Linked DNA regions of Homo sapiens. The protein of the gene in region 1 interacts with the protein of each later gene in a pairwise test. Each region holds a gene or a part of one and is shown on either strand. Other genes may lie near its edges. The genes, in order: OTUD7B and CDIP1.

Region 1 (7,269 bases):
GGATTGTTAGGAAGACCTGATTTTAAGGAGATTTGCAGACAGTTGGAAGTATAGATCCGATGCTCAAGGCAGATGTCACTCGTTCATGCATTGATTCAGGAGAAGAGTTATCCATTAATTCAACAAATATTTATTGAGTGACTACTGTGTGCCAGGTACTGTTCTAGATGCTCCAACAAAACAAAACAAACAAAAATACCTGCCTTCATGTTCTAGCAGGAGAGAGGGTCAATAAACAACAAATGTGATAACTAAGTAAATTATAAAGTATATTATAAACTGTTAAGTGCTATGGAGAAGAGTAAAGGGAATGATGAAGTGGGTTGTGATTTTTAAGTCAGGGTAGGCCTTACTAACAATGTGATGTTTAAGCAAATACCTAAAGCTAATGAGGAGTTGTCTGTGTGGATATATTGGGGAAAGAGCCTTCTAGGTAGAGGGAATAGTCAGTGGAAAGGCCCTAGAGTGAGAGTGGACTTAGCATGTTCTAGGAACAGCAAGGTCAGTGATGACTGGAACAGAGTGAGCAAAGGGAGTCAGAACAATTGGCTAATGTAATGATTTAGAAGTAAAATCATCAGTAATGATTTAGACGTAAAATTGTGAGTAAAACCAACCACTATTCTAAGTGCTTTCAACTCATCTAATCTTCATAACAGCTCTATGAGGTAGGCACTGCTACTATCATCTGCATTTTCACGGATAAGGAAATTGAAGCACAGAGAAGAGGCCAGAAAAGTAGGCCAGGACATACAAAGCCTTGAGTATCAAGCCAAAGAGCCTGAGTTTTATTCTGTAGGCAGTGGTAAGCCATTAAAAATCTCGATTATGGAACTAAAATGATCACAACTGTGCTTTAGAAAGATTAATCTCATGGGATTCTTTGGAATGGATCGGAGGTAGGACAGTAGGTGATAGGAATTGAATTAAGGTGGTAGTAGATGGAATACAACAGAAAGAAATGTGAGCAATTATACAATGCATATTTGTTGAATAATTTAGCTGGAGAAAGCATCAGAAAAATCCATTATGACAAATCTTATCATTTAAGGTCATTTCTTTAGTAGAATGGTGATTCTTAAATTTGGGGGAAACACTGTTTCCTTTGAAAAGCTGATGACAGCTATGAACTCTTTCACTAGAAAATGCACAAGCCCATGATCTTATATGCAGGTTTAGTGGTTTAGGACACACTAGAGTACATGTAGGCTAAGAACCTCTTTGGATCTCAGAATTAGGAGACCTGGGCCTGAGTCCTGCTGGGTCTGGTGTGAACTAGCTGTGACTTTGGGCAAATAATTTACTTCTCTAGACTTTATCTGTAAAAGGAAGTTTTAATTTTCGGTTACTAGATCTTTAAGGGCTCTTTTAGTTCAGAGGGACAAAGTTTCTATTTTCATGGCACTTACTTAGGAAATAGACAACAAATAAGTAAGTAAAGACATTTGATAAGTTAGATTGAAGTGTTATAAAGAAAATTAAAGCAGGGTAAGGAAAAGAAGAATGATTATGTGCATGCGTATTTGCATACTGGTTTTGATAGGATAGTTAGTGTGATCTTTGTGTCTCTATACTATGGTTGCACAGTTTGCTTTTTGCTTTGTCTCCTGACAGGAAAGAATTGGGATGTGAATGCCGCCCTCAGTGATTTTGAACAGCTACGTCAAGTCCATGCTGGAAACCTACCCCCATCCTTTAGTGAGGGGAGTGGTGGCTCCAGGACCCCTGAAAAAGGGTTTTCTGACAGAGAGCCTACTCGCCCTCCCCGACCCATCCTCCAGCGGCAGGATGACATCGTTCAAGGTACTGGGGTGACTGGAATGTTTCCGTATATGGAGTAGGAAGGGAGGGGATTGTTAAATGGAGTCATAAAGTCTAGTGATCCATTGGAGGTGATTCCATTTCTTCCCCTTCTCCCAGCCAAACCCAGACTGAGGTGGCCTCAGTCTGCCCAGGTGCTGCAGTCCCTCACTGCGTCTCTGCATCTTTAGTGTTATCCTGTATAAAAGCCTTCCTCAGATACTGTGAAAGAAATAGAGGAAGGAGGATAACAATCTCCTTGTTGATATAAAGTTCACATAAAGGTAGAATTGAAAGAGTCATTACCTCTTTGGGGGGTAATTTGTTAATATTTGCCAATATCTATCAAAATTAAAATGCATATGTACTCTGACTTAGCAATTTCATATCTAGCAATTTATCATATATGTGTATGTGCACATAAGTATTCTCTAAATAAATACATAAGGCCAGGTGCAGTGGCTCACACCTGTAATCCCAGCACTTTGGGAGGTCGAGGTGGGTGGATCACCTGAGGTCAGGAGTTCGAGACCAGTCTGGCCAACATGGTAAAACCCCATCTCTATTAAAAATACAAACATTAGCTGGGCGTGGTGGTACATGCCTATAATCCCAGCTACTTGGGAGGCTGAGGCAGGAGAATTGCTTGAACTTGGGAGGTGGAGGTTGCAGTGAACTGAGATTACACCACTGCACTCCAGCCTGGGTGACACAGTGAGACTCTGTCTACAAAAAAAAAAATAAATAAATGAATAAAAATTAAAAAAAGAAATACATAAATGCAGCATATAAGGATATTCACAGCAGCATTATTTTACAATAATTAAATCTTGAAACTTTTTTTTTTTCTTGAGGCAATCCATCTGACTTGGCCCCCCAAAGTGCTGGGATTACAGGTGTGAGCCACTGCACCTGGCCCTGAAAACATTTAATGTCCATTAGTAAAGGAATGGTTAAGTAAATTGTAATCATCCATGTTGTGGAATACTCTGCAATCATTAGAAAGAATTAGGCAGAACTTGGTGTACTGTTTTGGAAAAATTTCTAAAATCTATTCAGAAGGGGGCTGGGCATGATGGCTCACACCTGTAATCCCAGCACTTTTGGAGACCAAGGCTGGTGGATCACCTGAGGTCAGGAGTTCGAGACCAGCCTGGCCTACATGGTGAAACCCTGTCTCTGCTAAAATTACAAAAATTAGCTGGGCATGGTGGTGCACACCTGTAATCCCAGCTACTTGGGAGGCTGAGGCAGGAGACTTGCTTAAGCCCAGGAGGCAGAGGTTGTAGTAAACCTCTTAGATTGCACCACTGCTCTCCAGCCTGGGTGACGGAGTGAGACTCCATATAAAAAAATATATAATTTTTTTCAAAAAGGTAAGACACAATGCAATGTATGTAGTATACTCTCATTTGCGTTTTAAAAGATGATTTTAAAAGCTGTACATGCATTTTTAGTGGAGATGGGGTTTCACCGTATTAGCCAGGATGGTGTCGATCTCCTGACCTTGTGATCCACCTGCCTCGGCCTCCCAAAGTGTTGGGATTACAGGCGTGAGCCATCGTGCCCGGCCAAAACCTGTATATGCTTCTGTATGCATAAAAATTTCTAGAAGGATACAAAAGTTTGCCTCTGGGGAAGGGATCAGGAATTTTGAATGATAAGAAGACTTCCTTGTGAAATCATTTTATACCTTTTGATGGTATATTGATTTTTTACCATAGGCACATGGTACTGTTTTTGAGGCAGGGTCTTGCTCTGTCCTCCAAGGCTGGAGTGAGGCTGGTGGAACACAGCTCACTACAGCCTAAACCTCCTAGGCTCAAGGGATCCTACTGCCTCAGCCTCCCAAGTAGCTGGGAGCATGGGCACGCACCACCTCACCTAGCTAAATTTTTGATTCTTTGTAGAAATTAGGTCTCACTCTGTTGCCCAGGTGGTCTCGAATTCCTGGGCTCAAGTGATCCTTCTACCTTGGCTTCCCAAAGTTTTGGGATTACAGGTGTGAGCCACCATGCTCAGCCTACGAATACCTAAAAAATATTTTTAAGGTGGGTGTGGTGGCTCACGCCTGTAATCCCAGCACTTTGGGAGGCCAAGGCTGGCAGATCACCTGAGGCCAGGAGTTTGAGGAGAACAGCCTGACCAATGTGGAGAAACCCCGTCTCTGCTAAAATAAAAAAAAAAATTAGCTGGGTGTGGTGGCGTGTGCCTGTAATCCTAGCTACTCAGAAGGCTGAGGCAGGAGAATCCCTTGAACCTGGGAGGCAGAGGTTGCAGTGAGCCGAGACTGCAGCACTGCACTCCAGCCTGAGCGACAGAGCGAGACTCTGTCTCAAAGAACAAAAACAAACAAAACTAAAAAATATTTGAAAAATAACATCACTATAAGATAACTTTAGACAACTCAGTTTATTTTGTGTATCATATCTGGCAAATGTTGTATTAAGAACAGCCCAACATGCTTTTGAAATTTTGCCCCCTTTGGATCATCATTAAATCATTACATAATTGAAGCCATACAAATGAACTGTAATACTACATTGAGCAAATTATAATCACAGTGGAATATCTGCTTGGGAATTACAAGTGTCATGTATTCAAAACAAATGAAATGATGTGGGGTACTATCTACATTATTGTTCTCTATAGACTGTTAAGAATTGACTGTCCCTATAAATTTCTGATAAATATGGGTATTGAGAGTAGTTGTAGTAAGCAATATAAATTAATGTTATTGATGTAGGAAGAAAGTTCCCAAATGTGTAAGATTTGTTGTTGATTGTCTTTTTTTTTTTTTTTTGAAACGGGGTCTTGCTCTGTTGTCAGGCAGGAGTGCAGTGGCACAATCTTGGCTCACTGCAGCCTCCGCCTCCCAGGTTCAAGCAATTCTCCCACCTCAGCCTCCCGAGTAGCTGGGATTATAGGGGCACACCACCATGCCCGGCTAATTTTTGTATTTTTAGTAGAGACAGTGTTTCACCACGTTGGTCAGGCTGCTCTTGAACACCTGACCTCAGGTGATCCACCTGCCTTGGCCTCCCAAAGGATTTTCTTTTCTATAATGGATTTCTTTTATAATCTTTCTAGAATGAAAATACCCTTTAGAAAAGGTATTTCCCAAGACCCTGAGAATTACCAGAGAGGTTATTTGACTAACTCTAGTCTAGTGAAACCTCACTTCCCTTATTCCCTCTCCTCCCACCAAACAATGACCAAATTGCTAAATGAATGGGTCCCTATCACACTGGGAAATATGGAAGTGGAGGAAGACAGTCAGAGGGAGGGGAAGATCAGGCAAATTCCAAACAAGGGCAGAAAGAGGAATGAATAATTTGGTGCTAATGTGAGTGCCTACAAAAATACTGTCTCTATTTCTCCAATTGTATTTGGCTTCAGAAAAAGGGTTCTGAAATTCAGTAGTCAGTTAGACTTAGTTTTTCTCTGACTGTAAACCCTGTTGAGAGGTAACTATCACCACATCAGTGTAGAGTTCTCCAAGTGGGCTGTGTATGTTCTAAGGTGACTCCATTTCTCATTGCAGAAAAACGCCTGTCTAGGGGCATCTCCCACGCCAGCTCCAGCATTGTTTCCCTGGCCCGGTCCCATGTCTCCTCCAATGGTGGGGGTGGGGGGAGCAATGAGCACCCCCTGGAAATGCCCATCTGTGCCTTCCAGCTTCCAGATCTCACTGTATACAATGAAGACTTCCGCAGCTTCATAGAGAGAGACCTCATTGAGCAGTCCATGCTGGTTGCCTTGGAACAGGCAGGTCAGTGAGTGCTTCCTCTCCCACACTCTTCCCTCTACTCTCCACCTACAGGCAGCCTTGTGGAGGGGCTGGACTTGATCGCTAGCTTCCAGTTTAAGTGTGTTATCTGATTGCAAAGTCAGGAGTCAGTGGGATAAACTTGTGCTGTCAAAGAATGGATACAGATTAGATACTTTACTCTGGGAATTTCCTGGTTGATGGAAGAGAAACCAGATACACATGTGAAAAGGCCTAGGAATCAATACCTCGAAATCAATACATGAAAAAAATACAACTAATTATAATTGGCCCTGGAACACCCTTGTGAACAGAAATGACCAATGCTGTAGATGATGCACAGTAGTGAACCTATCCCCCCAAATGTATTTACGTTTGTAATTGTGTTTATCTTAAATTATTGTTAAAATTAATTCTTATCATAGGGTGAGGCAGCTGGGAATTTTGGAAAAGCTAATCAGGCATTAAAATGCTTGTGTGGGATAAGAACTGGAGTTAGATGAGGGCATGGAAAGGAAGCTTTTATTTTTCATTTTGTAACCTTCTATATTAACCATATACATCTATTTGTAATTTTTTTTTAAGTTGGTAAATTATCTGGTCTGGGGAGTTTATAAGCCAGTTTTTCATTCAGTAGTTCAAAAACTATGCTCCACAGTAGTTCAAGAAAACTTATGCATCACTCATAAGATATTTTCCTCATGTAAATAATGGGTTGGCAATTGTGGGATGACTGCATGGAATTAAGACTTATTTTCTTGGATATTTTATGTACTTTATCTTATTGCTCATTCCTTTAAAGTCACACCCCACACGTGATGACATGCTGTCATATATGCAGATGATACTCATAAAACACCTTAAATACATGCTTTGAGTTGTTTTTGTTTTGTTCATGATGGATTTTTGCTGAGCTTTGTTGCTGTGATACATACTGGTCTCCTGAGTGGAGGGAAGGAATCAGGGCCAGTCCAAGCAGTCAACAGTTTCAACTTATGTCCTTGGCCTCGTCATTTAACCCAGGGTTTCTCAACCTTGGCACTATTGACATTTTGGTCTAGATAATTCTTTGTTTTGCAAGCTGCCTTGTGCATTATATCATGGTTAGCAGCATCCCTGGCCTCTACCCATTAGATACCAGTAGCATCCTGCTACCAGTTGTGACATGCAAACATATCTTCAGTCATTGCCAGTGTCCCTTTGGGACAAAATTGACCCTACTCACTGATCTAACCAATTGTGCTCACAAGATTCTGACTGACTAGATATAAGTGAGGAAGATATAAAGAGTAATCAAGTGATGGTTTTATTCTGGGTAGGCCTCCTAGAGGAGGCTGCTTTGGAGTCTGTTTCAGAAATAGGAAGGTGGAAGGGCTTCATGGATAATCTCCTTTTCCTCCACTATCTTGTTTCTACAGGGCGTTTGAACTGGTGGGTGAGTGTGGATCCCACCTCTCAGAGGCTGCTTCCTTTGGCAACTACTGGAGATGGGAACTGCCTCCTGCATGCAGCCTCCCTTGGTGAGTCTTGAAAGCAGTCCTCCATTCACCTGCAGAAAGGAAGCAGTTGAGTCAAATCTCATGTGTAGGACTTGATCCAGATAACCTTGATCTTAGGCGGAAATGATGGTTCAGAGCGAGATTGTGCATGCTTACGTGTGTGTCTGTGTGTTTATGTTGGCACAAGAGGAAATGGGAGTG
Region 2 (8,164 bases), on another chromosome or scaffold:
AAATAAAATTTAAATAAAAATAAAAACAAAGATAAATAAATAAAATACGGATCATGGCTAGGTATGGTGACTCATGCCTGTAATCGCAGCACTTTGGGTGGCCAAGGTGAGAGGATCACTTGAGCCTAGGAGTTCAAGACCAGCCTGGCAACCTAGTGAGACCCTGTTTCTATTTTAATATAAATTAATTAATTAATTAAAATAAAACAAGAATCTAGTCATATTACTCAGCCCAAAATTCTCAACATTACATCACCCACTACCTACCCAATAGGATACAGTCTAAATTCCACAGATTGGTCTATAAGGCCCTCATGTTTCCTCACCCTCTGCCCTCCTCTTTCATATCCTACCACCCAACCATACAGAACTGCTTGCATTTCCCCACACACTCTGTGTTTCATTTCTCTGCAACTTTGCATTAGCAGCTCTAACTACTTGGAGTACCCTACCCCACTTCTTTCACCTGGGGAATCCTACACATCCTTCAAGCCCCAACTTAAACGTCCTCCTCTCTGAAGCCTTCCTTGTTCGGGCACTCCCTCTCCTGAACTCTCAAAGCACTCTGTTTTGACATCTTGAACATAAGCTATTATATTAGTCTCCCGTGCTGGACTGTGTGCGCTTTGAGGACAGAGATGGGGCTTTATTCCATTTTGTGTATTTCCAGGCCTAGAACAGGACCTTGCTTGGTCAAATGAGTAAATGAATAAATATTCTAGATCTGTGCTGTCCAATACAGTAGCCACAAGCCATATGTGGCTACTGAGCCCCTGAAATGTGACTGCTCCAAATTGAGATGTCCTGTAAATATAAAGTACACACTGCATTTCAAAAACAGTGTGAAAAAAGAGTAAAATATATCATTGATAATTTTTTTTTTTGAGACAAAGTTTTGCTTGTCGCCCAGGCTGGAGTGCAATGGTGTGATCTTGCCTCACTGCAACCTCCGCCTCCCAGTTGAAGCTATTCTCCTGCCTCAGCCTCCCGAGTAGCTGGGATTACAGGCGCCTGCCACCATGTCAAGCTAATTTTTTGTATTTTTAGTAGAGACGGGGTTTCACTATATTGGCCAGGCTGGTCTTGAACTCCTGACCTCAGGTGATCTGCCCACCTTGGCCTCCCAAAGTGCTGGGATTACAGGCATGAGCCACTGCGCCTGGCTGATAATTTTTTATGTTGATTACTGAAACAATATTTTGCATATATTGAGTTAAATGTATTATTAAAATTAATTTCACCTGTGTCTTTTTATACTTTTAATGTGGTTACTGGGAAATTTTTATTTTCAAATTTTTATTTATTTATTTTTTTAGAGACTGAGTCTAACTCTGTTGCTCAAGCTGGACTGCAATGGCGCAATTCTTGCTCACTGCAGTCTCAAACTCCTGGGCTCAAGTGATCCTCCTGCCTCAGCCTCCTGAGTAGGTGGGACTATGGGCATGAGCCACCACAGCTGGCTAATTTTTTAATTTTATAAATTTTTTTGTAGAGATGGGAGACTCACTATGTTGCTCAGGCTAGTCTCAAACTCTTGAACTCAATCTCCCAAAATGTTGGTATTACAGGTGTGAGCCACAGGGACCAGCCTGGAAATTTCTGGATTACATATGTGCTGGTCGCCCAGCCTTCTATTTGCCTCTCTTGGTCTAAACCATTCTCCACACTGTAGTCAGATGATCCTGTGAAATGTCAATCGAATCATATAAGTGGCCACAAACACTGAATTAAGCAAACACTGAACCACTGCTTCTGGGGGAACAACCTAGGTTCCTGTGAGCCTGTGGACACAACATTTTTGTCAACCAATCAATAACCTTGTTTATAGGTGTTTCTGTTTAAAGGCAACTTAGTTAATATACACTGTTGATTCAGTGCAATTGAACTCAATTGCCTGCACCAAGCTAACTGAGCACAGCTGTTTTCTCTATAAGGCAAATCACCACCTTCTTGCACTGAGGAATGCTAGACAGCACTTCTGCACAACACTAAGGGCCATTTTAAACACCAGAATCACCAATAAAAAGCGTAAAAATAAATGAGAAAAAGATGACACTAAATAGACCAAAAAGGAGACTTGTAGGCAGCGCTGCCCTATTATTTTTAGAGACAGGGTCTCACTCTGTTGCCCAGGCTGGAGTGCAGTGGCACAATCCCAGCTCACAGCAGCCTCGACCTGCTGGGCTGAAGGGATCCTCCCACCTCAGCCTCCCGAGTGGCTGGGATAGAAGGCGAGTGCCACCATGACAGCCCAGTGTTGCCTTATTTGACCTCAGTGGAGAATGTGCAGGATCGTTATGTCCATGAATGAATGAGAAAGCACCACAAGTATTGATTTTGGGATTAGAAATAAATGTTAGTGAGTAGGCAAATTTGCAAACACAAAATCCATAAATAATGAAGATTGACTGTAACTCTACTGCTTAAAACTCTTCAAGGGCTTTAAATTCCACTTGAAATAAAATCCAGGCCGGGCGCGGTGGCTCACGCCTGTAATCCCAGCACTTTGGGAGGCAGAGGCGGGCGGATCACGAGGTGAGGAGATCGACACCAGCCTGACCAACATAGTGAAACTCAGTCTCTACTAAAAATACAAAAATTAGCCAGGCGTGGTAGCAGGTACCTATAGTCCTAGCTCCTCAGGAGGCTGAGGCAGGAGAATTGCTTGAACCTGGGAGACGGAGGTTGCAGTGAGCCGAGATCGAGCCACTGCACTCCAGCCTGGTGACAGAGCGAGACTCCATCTAAAAAAAAAAAAAAATCCAAACTGCAGACAGGTATGGTGGCTTATGCCTGTAATCCCAGCTACTTGGGAGGCTGAGGCAGGAGGACTGCTTGAGCCTAGGAGTTGTCACAGTGAGCTATGATCATGCCACTGTACTCCAGCCTGGGTGCCTGATCAAGATCCTATCTCAAAAAAAAAAGAAAGAAGAATCCAGAGTTTTATTTTATTTTGAGAGAGTTTTGCTCTGTCTCCCAGGCTGGAGAGCAGTGGTGTGATCTTGGCTCACTGCAACCTCTGCCTCCTAGGTTCAAGCAATTCTCCTGCCTCAGCCTCCCGAATAGCTGGGATTACAGGCGTGTATGCCGGGCTAATTTTTGTATTTTTAGTAGAGACGGGGTTTCACTGTGTTGGCCAGGCTGGTCTCAAACTCCTGACCTCAAGTGATCTGCCTGCCTCGGCCTCCCAAAGTGCTGGGGTTACAGGCATGAGCCACCACGCCTGGCCAGAGTTCTTAAAATGACCTACAAATCTCAACATGACTTGGATCCAGCCTGCCCCACTGACATCCTCACCTTTCTGACTCTCTCACCCAAGGCAATCCCTCCCTCTGGAATGCCCTTCCAGAATAGAATGTCTTTTCAATTTCATGCCCCTGCCTCAGCATCGCCTCCTCTGAGAGGCCTTTTCTAACCAACCTGTCTAGTGGCACCACCCCGTAACTCTGTTAGGGCGTCCCTTCCTCTCCTTCACAGTCCTGGGCATTTTGTGGTTTCCTTGTATACTGTCTGTAACAAAGGAAGTACCTGAGCAAGTAGCCACCCAGTGGGTTCTTCTTCCTGGCTGCCCAGATAGAGCCAATGTATCAAGACAGGGGAACTGCAATAGAGAAAGAGTTTAATCCACACAGAGCTGGCTGAATGGGAGACCAAAGTTTCATTACTCAAATCAGTCTCCCTGGAAATTCAGAGCCTAGAGTTTTTAAAGGGTAATTTGGTAGATAAGCTGCCAAGGAGTAGGGAGTGCTGATTGGTGGGGTGGGAGATGAAATCACAGGGTGTTGAAGGATGCAAGAACTGGTTGAGTCAGATTACAGCTCTAGGTGGCCTTGGCTGGTGCATCAGACTGCAGGGTCAGAAAAACACCTAAGAGTACCAATCTTAGGTTTTACAATAGTGATATTATACCTAGGATCAACTGGGGAGGTTTAGAATCTTGTGGCCTCTGGGTGCATGACTCCTAAACCGTAATTTCTTTCTTTCTTTCTTTTTTTGAGATGGAGTCTCAGTCTCTTGCTCAGGCTGGAGTGCAGAGGCATAATCTCAGCTCACTGCAACCTCCATCTCTCGGGTTCAAGCAATTTTTGGGCTTCAGCCTCCCTAGTAGTTGGGATTACAGGTGCGTGCCACCATACCCGGCTAATTTTTGTATTTTTAAATAGAGACATGGTTTCACCATGTTGGCCAGGCTGGTCTCAAACTCCTGACCTCAAGTGATCCACCTGCGTCAGCCTTCCAAAGTGCTGGGATTACAGGCGTTAGCCACTGAGCTGGGCCCTAAACTATAATGTCTAATCTTGTAGCTAACGTGTTACTCTTACAAAGGAAGCCTGGTTCTCAGGCAACAAGGGGGTTTGTTTTGGGAAAGGGCTGTTAACTATCTTTGTTTCAATATTAAACTATAAACTAAGTTGCTCCCAAAGTTAGTTCTGCCTATGCCTAGGAATGAACAAGGACAACCTGGAGGTTAGAAGCAAGATGGAGTGGGTTAGGTCAGCTCTCTTTCACTGTCATAATTTTCTGTTGTAATTTTTGCAAAGGCAGTTTCAAGCGCAGGGACAGTGACCGTGTGGTTCAAGGTTTTATGTAATGCACCTCCCAAACTCAATAAATATTAGTCGCATAAAAGAAAAAATGCAGCCCTGGAGGAAGATGCCCTGCCCTGTTGCTGGCATGAGTGAAGAGGAGGCGCTCACAGGGACGGTTCTTTCCCTATTCTCCAGCCTCGTGTACATTGGGCAAACAGGCCCCGACCATCCCACGTGCTCAGCCCCAGCTCTAGGCCAAATCGCCTCCGCTCCCACTGACGTCATCACGGCGCATCACGTGCCTCCCGAGACCCCACCCCCCACCGTGACGTCCCGGGCCTCGGCCCTGGTCCAAAGTCTACCCGCCTCCTTGTGACAGAAGTGCGACTGCCAGCTGCCGAGGCGTTCGGTCCTGCTGTTGCGGCCGCTGCCCCAGGGCTGCGGGGACGGTGAGTCGACTGGACGCATTCGGAGACGGCTTCGCGCGGGAGCCCTCCTCCCCGGGGGAAGGGTCTGGGCGCCAGCTCTCCTCAGGTCGGGGCGTGACCTCGGACCGTGGCGCCCCCTCCCCGCCCCCGCCCGCGGCGCCTGGGCGGTGCATGCCGGGCACCGTAGTCCCCAGCCTCTCAGAGCGGGTTGTGGTGGGGGGGGTGACCGGGCGGACTACAAGTCCTAGAAGCCTCTGGGCGGTGGGGTGGGCGGTGGGTTGGGGGGTTTCGTTGTGCGCGCAAAGCCGCGCGGGGCTGAGGGTCTTGTTCTGCCGGCGCCTGTCCGGACCCGGGCCCCTCTCCGCTTTCGGCCGGCCTCGGGCACCGGGCTTCTGGAGGTAAAGCGGGGCCGGCGGTTGGGGCGCGGCATGGCGGGGCCCGTCCTCCCCTCAGGGCGCTGCCGAGACCTAGCGCGGCCCTGGGGATGTCGAAGCCGCTGCGGTGGCGGGGCCCGGGCGGGCGCCCCGCTGTGTGCCGCGGGGTTGTGCGCCCGGAATGGCAGCCTGCTCGCCCGCACGTTTTTCCGTCAGGGAAGGTTGTGGAAATTGCCATCTCCGTCTTGCAGGGCGAGACGGGGAGGGGAGGGGTGGGAGTTGTTTTCTCAAGGAAAGGGGGTCGAGGAGGAGCCCCGTGGCCGAGCCAGCCCCTGCCGAGCCCCGCGGGTGACCTTGGCCGTCCCGGAGCCCAGCAGTGTCCTGCACCCGCGCCCGGCTCGCCGACGTGTGGAGTCGGGATGTGGCGCTCGGCCGCGCATCCCCGGCGGAGATGGCGACGGCCTGGCCTAGCTTGGGGCTAGGAGTCGCGCCTTCGAGGACCTTGGCTTAGCGAGTTCCTTGGGGGGCTTCTCAACAGGTGTTAGATGAGGTGGGGCGAGTGGCTGTGAGTTCCTCCAAAGGTGGGCTCAAGATCCTCTGCGTCAGAACCACCTGGGGCTCTTGGGAAACGGGCAGATTCCTGGGGCCCACCCCAGGTGTTGGGATGCTGTAGTTCCGTCGCGCTGCCCAGGAATCTGCATTTAGTAGGCTCCCCAGATCATTCCCGGGCGCAGCTGGGGCTGAGAACCTGTCCCAGTGAGGGGGTTGGCGGGCCCGGGGGCAGGGACGTTCCATAGTGTTTCTGCCAGTTTCTTCTGTATTCTGGGGCCTGATGCTGGGCGGGGCGGTGCCCGGGCAAGTTACTGCTCTCCTGGGTTCTTTGCTGCTTCCCTTGGGGCCGATCTAGGTAGAACTGGGTGGAGGGAGGCGTGCCAGCTCTGCCTTGCCCTCTGCCCTTAATCGGAAAGGTTATGCCCAGTCACTTGCCAGTCTCAGAAGACTCCCCCTCTACACATTCAGTTACGAAAAACGTGAAACATACAAAAGTTGAAGGAATTTTACAGTGAACACCCACAGACCACCACCTAGAATGTAGAGTTAACACTTTATTGTATTTCATCACATATTTGTCCAACCAGCAGTCCCTCTTGTTTTTTGTGTCAAAGTAAGTTGCAGATATCAGTGCCTTTCCCTCCCAAATAAGCATGCATGTCATTAATTAGAGTCTTAGAATTGTTGTTTATTGGGTTTGACTTTTTTATCTTCTTAATGGTTTTTACCTTAATGGAAGCCCTGGGTATTTAGAAATCCGTCTCTCACCCTTGAGAATTTGAAGGAGTTCGGAGGTTTTCCACAGGATGGGAGAACCAGGGAAGAGCTTTACAGGTTCTCTTACAAAGGTTCATTTATTTATTTAGAGCCAGGGTCTTGCTCTGTGGCCCAGGCTGGAGTGCAGCGGTGCCGTCACGACGTTCACTGCAGCCTTGAACTCCTTGTCTCCAGCGATCCTCCTGAGTACCTGGAACTACAGGCATGCCCCACCATGCCCGGCTAATTTTTTTTTTTTTTTTTTTTTGTAGAGATGGCATGTCATTATTTTGCCCAGCTGGTCTCTAACTCCTGGGCTCAAGTGATCCTCTTGCCTCACCCTCCCAAAGTGCTGGGATTACAGGCAGGAGCTACCGTGCCCAAGTTCTTACAAGGATTTAAGAGCAGCCAGCCGTGGTTCTAGAATCACCATAAGAGCAGAACATTGACTGTATGATGTAAAGTAATACTTCAGGGAACAAAATTGTTTTGAGAAGGAGCTAACGGAATGCGTCCCGAAGGCCAGCTTGCCCCAGCAGATCACGTTGGCAATAATTGAAGCTAGTCATCAGCTTGCAACTCCCTGTCGGCTCTTTACACTGTAAGCTTGTCCAGGTTGAACCTACCAGTTCAGTGTGTGTTTTCTAAGGTCTAGGGGAACTGGGGTGTGTAGTGCAATTTAGCTCATGGTGTTGATGGACTAGAGGCCGTGGCTTTGAGACCCTTGGGCCCAGGTACTTTGTTCCTTAGCCACAAACACCAGCCCTTCACCCTACTCAGTTGCCTGAGTGGGAGAGAAAAGATAGGCCCTGTGAAAATTTGTCTCCACTTTGAGGAACATGGTTCCAAGGGTAAGGACATGTTTTTACTCATAGAAGACACAGGGAAATATGGTAGTTAAAGTTGTGGCATTTTATAGCATGTCACTGTCCTGTAGGTGGAGGAAGTGCTGGTGAGAAGGTGGCAGGCAGGGAGAGCTCTGCAGAGGACCTTGGCGCTCCATGGGGAGGATGGAGAGAGAGAGCCAGGCCGGCAGTGGTGACAGGAGGTTCCCTTTCCCCCACGAGGGGACTTGGAAATAGATTACTCAAAATGGAAATGTGCCCCTTTCTAGGATCCCACAAAAAGTTTCTGTTTCTGTCTCTGCCTAGTCAGGAGTCTCCAAGCCACAGTCTCTGTGGGAGGTGGTAAAGGCTACCTTGCAATACAGTGCAGCAGAGGTGGAGGCGCCTAGGGCCTGGGCCAGAACCTCCCCATGCCCAGAGGGCTGTCCACTCTTGGAGACACTGGTCTGGTGGCTCCTGAACCCGTGGGCCTGATGGCCCCGGTCACCACTTCTCCTACTCTGTGAGTCATCAGGCAGTGGTCCATGACATTGGTGGTGTCCTGGGACCAGGGCTGCCTAGACGTGGAGACCTCTCTGTCATGTTGAAGCTGTGTGACAGACAGGCCTTGCTGGCCGCGTCTGTGATAGGTGAAGAGCATCACCCAGGCCACAGGAAGGCCTGCATCTGCTGTTAGCGCT

What was found.
Region 2: the proteins of OTUD7B (region 1) and CDIP1 interact in binary tests that used the Homo sapiens proteins (3 or more experiments, as listed by UniProt).

What each region holds. Positions count from the first base shown.
Region 1 is NC_000001.11:149,965,597-149,972,865, reverse strand, and holds part of OTUD7B (OTU domain-containing protein 7B), read left to right. Parts: intron 1-1,614; coding exon 1,615-1,803; intron 1,804-5,344; coding exon 5,345-5,572; intron 5,573-6,987; coding exon 6,988-7,089; intron 7,090-7,269. UniProt on the Homo sapiens protein: Negative regulator of the non-canonical NF-kappa-B pathway that acts by mediating deubiquitination of TRAF3, an inhibitor of the NF-kappa-B pathway, thereby acting as a negative regulator of B-cell responses.
Region 2 is NC_000016.10:4,535,516-4,543,679, reverse strand, and holds the start of CDIP1 (cell death-inducing p53-target protein 1), read left to right. Parts: upstream 1-4,906; 5' UTR 4,907-4,978; exon of another isoform or gene 4,979-5,079; intron 5,080-5,250; exon of another isoform or gene 5,251-5,355; intron 5,356-8,164. UniProt on the Homo sapiens protein: Acts as an important p53/TP53-apoptotic effector. Regulates TNF-alpha-mediated apoptosis in a p53/TP53-dependent manner.